2 linked regions of the Homo sapiens genome follow. The protein of the gene in region 2 purifies or fractionates together with the protein of the main gene of each other region. This does not show direct contact. Each region holds a gene or a part of one and is shown on either strand. Other genes may lie near its edges.

Region 1 (3,657 bases), on a different chromosome or scaffold from region 2:
TAATCCCAGCACTCTGGGAGGCCAAGGCAGGTGGACTGCCTGAGGTCAGGAGTTCAAGACCAGCCTCCCGTAGAGATGGTGAAACCCCATCTCTACCAAAAATACAAAAATTAGCCAGGTGTGGTGGTGCATGTCTGTAGTCCCAGCTACTCGGGAGGCTGAGGCAGGTGAATCACTTGAACCTGGGAGGCAGAAGTTGCAGTGAGCTGAGATCACGCCACTGTGTTCCAGCCTGGGCAACAGAGCAAGACTCCGTCTCAAACAAACAAACAAAAAAAAGTGAAAGAAATTAAGATCTCAGCAATTTTAACTAAAAAACCAACTCTGTGTATAAACAGCTACTACTTAAGGTATAAGGTTTTAATTTGTGTTCCCTGGGTTAAACTAAAACTAAAAATTAAGATATAAAACGTATATATGTAGATATATGTGTGTGTGTATATGTACATATATGACTTTTCTCCCCAACAAGACAGGGTTCTCATGGAGTGCAGTGGTGTGTGATCATGGCTCACTGCAGCCTCAACCACTTGAGCTTAAGTGATCCTCCTGCCTCAGCCTCCTGGGCACTGGGACTACAGGTGTACACCACCGCGCCACACTGTTTTTTGTAGAGACGGGGTCTCCCTGTGTTGCCCAGTCTGGTCTCAAATTTCTGGGCTCAAGTGATCCTCCTGCTGCAGCCTCCCAAAGTGCTGGCATTACAGGCATGAGCCACTACTCCAGGCTTCACAATTTTTAAAGTAAATTATGACACACATGAGAATATTTACTTATCCTCAAGAATCTCAAATTGCCTTTGTCATATTCCAATTCTGTACATATTTTTTCTTTTAAAGACAACTGTAATTAGGAATAAAATATGTGTAATGGGAGTAAGTTAATAAATAAAATCTGGGGCAGCTGGCTGTGATGGCTCACGCCTATAATCCCAGCACTTTGGGAGGCCAAGGCAGGTGGATCACCTCAAGTCAGGAGTTCAAGACCAACTTGGCCAACATGGTGAAACCCCACCTCTACTAAAAAAATAAACAAATAAATAAATAATAAAAAATTAGCTGGGCGTGGTGGTGGCCACCTGTAATCCCAGCTACTTGGGAGGCTGAGACAGGAGAATAGCTTGAACCCTGGAGGCAGAGGTTGCAGTAAGCCAAGATCGCACCATTGCACTCCAGCCTGGGCGACAGAGTAAGACTCCGTCTCAAAAAAAAAAAAAAAAAAGAAGAAGATTTGGTAGAGATTCAGCCGGAACATTTATACCTTGTATCCTAATTCCAAACTGCTGAAGCTACAAAATACACTGGATTAAAATAAACTAGGAAATTGGTATCTATAACCTCAACAGAAAACAAGGAATCTTTTTTTTTTTTTTTTTGAGACGGAGTCTCACTGTCACCCAGGCTGGAGTGCAATGGCACAATCTTGGCTCACTACAACCTCCGCCTCCCGGGTTCAAACGATTCTCCTGCCTCAGCCTCCTGAGTAGCTGGGATTACAGGTGCCCACCACCACGCCCAGCTAACGTTTTTTTTGTATTTTTGGTAGAGACAGGGTTTCACCACATCGGTTAGGCTGGTCTTGAACTCCTGACCTCAGGTGATCCACCCTCCTTGGCCTCCCAAAGTGCTGGGATTACAGGCGTGAGCCACTGTGCCCAGCCAAGAAGGAATCGTTCTTGTCTGGAGGTTCTCTGTATAGTATAAGATCAGGATGTGTACTACCTTTACATAATAGTATCTGAGGGCTCGGCTGAGTTTGTCATAATTCATGTTAGGCTTGTTCTTGCGAATCCCCCAGAGACGAGCCACCTCTTCTGCCTGCAAAAGCTTAAACTGCCCATCATTAGAGGTCCAACAGATCATGTGCTTGTTCTGAGGCTTCTGCAGGAGCTGAAGAAGGAACTGCCACAGGGTGATAGCACTGTCCATAGCAATGAGCTGAAAGAATATAGATAAGATATGTGATAATATTAACAGCCAACACCTATTTAACACTGTATGTCATGCACTGTTTTAAGTGCTCTAAATGTATTAATTCATCCCCACATTTCTATAAGGTAGATACTACTGCATCCTCATTTTACGTAAGAAAAAACTGATTCATAAGAGGGTTAAGGAACTTGTACAACATCACACAAGTAAACGGTGAAGCTAAGATCTAAGCCCAGGCAATCTGGACCCAGAATCCAAACTCTTAAGGATGCCACGCTGCTTAAGAAATGTCTTAAGCAACAAGCAACTTGCAAGGAGGATAAAGCTAGTTCCCTAAATTATAGGAAAAAACAATGATTGTCAATCACTAGTGACTGTCAATCACTGTTGTTAAATTTGAATCCTAAAATCTCATTGCTGTATTCTCTCAGGAGACCACCATTCCAGCATCTGTCTAAATCAACCCGGTTTGGTTATCTGCCTGTGAGTGTATGTGTTTGTGTCTATCTCAGGGTGGCCCAGGGACTGAGGTGTAGGGAATAATCTACTTTTGCTCCAACTGGTTTCCATCACCATAAATGTCATTTACATACAAATTGGCAGCATTTTGAATTCAGCAAAGTGTTCTCTTTTCTGTCACTGTTCTGTCCACAGTGATTCCATCTGCAAAGATTCTCCTTTGATTAGCAATCTTTATGTGATTATCAAGGCATGGATTGAAGAAAAATATTTTAATATCTTAAGTTTCAGGATCTCCCTGTTTAGGCCAGAGTTTCTCAATTTTGGCATTATTGGTTTTGGGGGCCAGATAATTCTTTGTTGTGGGAAGCTGTCCTGTACACTGCAGTTTGTCTAACAGCATACCCGGCCTCTACCCACTAGATGCCAGTAGCACCGCCTGCCCCATTGAGACCATCAAAAATATCTCCAGACACTGCCAAATATTCCCCCAGGGGTCAAAGTCATCCCGGTAGATAACCATTGGTTTAGGCAAAGGAGCAGCAAGGAATGCTCTCTCATAAAGGTATTTTCCTCATACAATTTCAAAACACCTTTCTATTAGGAAGAATTCTTTAGGGCAGAAACTCTGGCCAAATCCGTATAAGTGTGTCCTAAGAATCTTATGATTGAATACTTCACACACACAAAAAAAAACAAAAACAAAAAACCTTCCTTTCTCTAGTAATGAGATCTCAATGGGTTAGAATAGAGTTTGAAAACAAATTATATCAATACCATTAAAACACTACAAGAACAGATCAAAACTGGACTACAACAAAATTTAAAATTGTTGTGCTGCAAATAATGCCATCAAGTGAGAAGACAATCCCCCAAATGGGAGAATATTTTCAAACCATGTATCACAAAGGGAGCCTGCATCCAAAATATATTAAAAAACGCCTACGACTAAAAAAAAAAAAGCAAAGAATTTGAAAAGACATCATAGCAAAGAAGATATACAAATAGCCAATAAACACACGAAAAAATGCTCTACATTGGCTGAATCTGCCTACTTGTCGCCACTATCACTGCCACCCACCTCCCGGCTCCCCCAGGTTCCTTCAGCCCAGCCTAGTTCAGCCGGGTTCCCAACAGGATGAAATTCGTGTACAAAGAAGAGCATCCGTTCAAGAAACGGGCGGCTCCGAGAGCAAGAAGACTGGAAAGAAATACCCGGACCGGGTGCCGGTGATAGTAGAAAAGGCTCCCAAAGCTCGGATAGGAG
Region 2 (2,624 bases):
ACTGGTGGAAGAAATTTCTAAGCAGCAAAGAATTCAAGAGATAACCTGGGTGCTGTTAAAGGCATTCAGTTTTGTTTTTTTTTTTTTTTGTCAGTAAATACTTTATTCATTTCTCTGTTGATTTTTTTTCCTCATTACAAAACAGCACTGTATACAGCTGTGCATTTTCTGGTTACATGGAAGTGGAATTATTTGGTAAATGTGCATATTCAACATGAATAAAAATGAACAATTTGCTTTCCAGGGTAGTATTTTAAATTTATACTCCCATATTCCACCAGCAGTGCTTGAGAGTTATTGTTTATCAGCATTTCCTAATGTGAAATCGGAGTTTTTCTAAATGAGATTTTTGGCTATTTGGAGATTTTCCCACTTTCCTTGGAATGGTCTATTCAGATTCTCTACAGTTTTTATTTTATGAGATTTGATTTGTAAATATTCTTTATATATTTGAGTTTTAACTTTTTGTCAGTATGTGACAAATATATTCTGTCACCTTGTGGGTTTGTTTTTAACTGTTCGTGATATCTTTGGATGTGCAAAATTTTAATAATGTTGGATTTATATTTTTTATAGTTTTTGAATGCTGCCTTTTCATAAAGGAGTTATCTGACTTCCACTTTCCCCAGGAGCTGCAGGCATCAATTTGGCAAGTTTACTTAGCGCTGGTGTACTTGGTGACGGCCTTGGTGCCCTCGGACACGGCGTGCTTGGCCAACTCCCCGGGCAGCAGCAGGCGCACGGCCGTCTGGATCTCCCTGGAGGTGATGGTCGAGCGCTTGTTGTAATGCGGCAGGCGGGAAGCCTCACCTGCGATGCGTTCGAAGATGTCGTTGACGAAGGAGTTCATGATTCCCATGGCCTTAGAGGAGATGCCGGTGTCGGGGTGGACCTGCTTCAGCACCTTGTACACGTATACGGAGTAGCTCTCCTTGCGGCTGCGCTTGCGCTTCCTGCCGTCCTTCTTCTGCGCCTTAGTCACGGCTTTCTTCGAGCCCTTCTTGGGCGCGGGAGCGGACTTCGCTGGCTCCGGCATGTTGAAGGCGAACTACGAGCCTGAGACGAGCAGCAGATCGTGAAAACGGGAAGTAATGCAAGGCATTCAGTTTTATAAGGGAAGTGGTTTGGAAAATTTGCAGCCTGACAATGCGATTGAAAAGAAAATCCTGTTTTCTGAGGAGAAATTCAGACTGGCTAAAGAAATTTGCATAAGTAACAAGGAGCTGAATGTTAAGCCCTAAGACAGTGGAGAAAATGTCTCCAGCCATGTCACAGACTTTTGTGGCAGCCCATCCCATCATAGGCCTAGAGGCCTAGGAGGAAAAAGTGGTTTCATGGGCCAGGCCCAGGGTCCCTGTGCTTTGTGCAGCCTAGGGACTTGGTGCCCTGTGTCCCTGTCACTCCAACCATGGCTGAAAGGGGCCAACATAGTGCTCAGGTCCTGCTTCAGAAGGTGCAAGCCTCAAGCCTTGGGAGCTTCCATGTGGTATTGAGCCTGTCAGTGCACAGAAGTCAAAAATTGGGTTTTGGGAACCTCTGCCAAGAGTTTAGAGGATGTATGGAAATGCCTGGTTGTCTAGGCAGAAGTTTACTGCAGGGATGGGGCTCTCATGGAGAACCTCTGCTAGGGCAGTGCAGAAAGGAAATGTGGGGTTGGAGCCCCCACACAGAGTCCCTACTGGGGCACCACCTAGGGGAGCTGTGAGAAGAGGGCCACCGTCCTCCAGACCCCAGAATGGTAGATCCGCTGACAGCTTGCACCGTGCACCTGGAAAAGCCGAAGACCCTCAATGCCAGCCCATGAAAGCAGCCAGGAGAGGGGCTATACCTTGCAAAGCCACAGGGGTGGAGCTACCCAAGGCCATGGGAGCCCACCTCTTACATCAGCGTGACCTGGATGTGAGACATGGAATCAAAGGAGATTGTTTTGGAACTTTAAGATTTGACTGCCCTGCTGGATTTTGGACTCGCATGGGGCCTGTAGCCCCTCTGTTTTGGCCAATTTCTCCCATTCAGAATGGCTATATTTACCCAATTCCTGTATCCCCATTGTATCTAGGAAGTAACTACCTTACTTTTGATTTTATAGGCTCATAGGCAGAAGGGACTTGCCTTGTCTCAGATGAGAGTTTGGATTGTGACTTTTGAGTTAATGCTGAATGAGTTAAGACTTTAGGGGACTGTTGGGAAGGTATTATTGGTTTTGAAATGTGAAGACATGAGATTTGGGAGGGGCCAGGGGCTGAATGATATGGTTTGGCTCTGTGTCCCCACTCAAATCTCATCTTGTAGTTCCCACAGTTCCCATGTGTTCTGGGAGGGACCTGGTGGGAGATAATTGAATCATGGGGGTGAATCTTTCCTGTGCTGTTCTCGTGATAGTGAATAAGTCTTATGAGATCTGATGGTTTTAAAAATGGAAACTTCCATGCACAAGCTCTCTCTTTGCCTGCCGCCATCCATGTAAGATGTGACTTGTTCCTCCTTACCTTCCACCATGATTGTGAGGCCTCCCTAGCCATGTGAAACTGTAAGTCCATTAAACCTCTTTTTCTTCCCAGTCTTAGATATGTCTTTATCAGCAACGTGAAAATGGACTAATACAGTTGGTTTATAAAACTAGT

What was found. Proteins that work in one complex are often made in the same cells at the same time.
Region 1: the proteins of H2BC12L (region 2) and ELK4 purify together in Homo sapiens (co-immunoprecipitation; one large-scale study listed by IntAct). This does not show direct contact.

Annotation. Positions count from the first base shown.
Region 1 is NC_000001.11:205,621,955-205,625,611, forward strand, and holds part of ELK4 (ETS domain-containing protein Elk-4), read right to left. Parts: exon of another isoform or gene 3,431-3,657; intron 1,938-3,430; 5' UTR 1,929-1,937; coding exon 1,722-1,928; intron 1-1,721. UniProt on the Homo sapiens protein: Involved in both transcriptional activation and repression. Interaction with SIRT7 leads to recruitment and stabilization of SIRT7 at promoters, followed by deacetylation of histone H3 at 'Lys-18' (H3K18Ac) and subsequent transcription repression.
Region 2 is NC_000021.9:43,563,651-43,566,274, reverse strand, and holds H2BC12L (histone H2B type F-S), read right to left. Parts: upstream 1,094-2,624; 5' UTR 1,037-1,093; coding exon 656-1,036; 3' UTR 627-655; downstream 1-626. UniProt on the Homo sapiens protein: Core component of nucleosome. Nucleosomes wrap and compact DNA into chromatin, limiting DNA accessibility to the cellular machineries which require DNA as a template.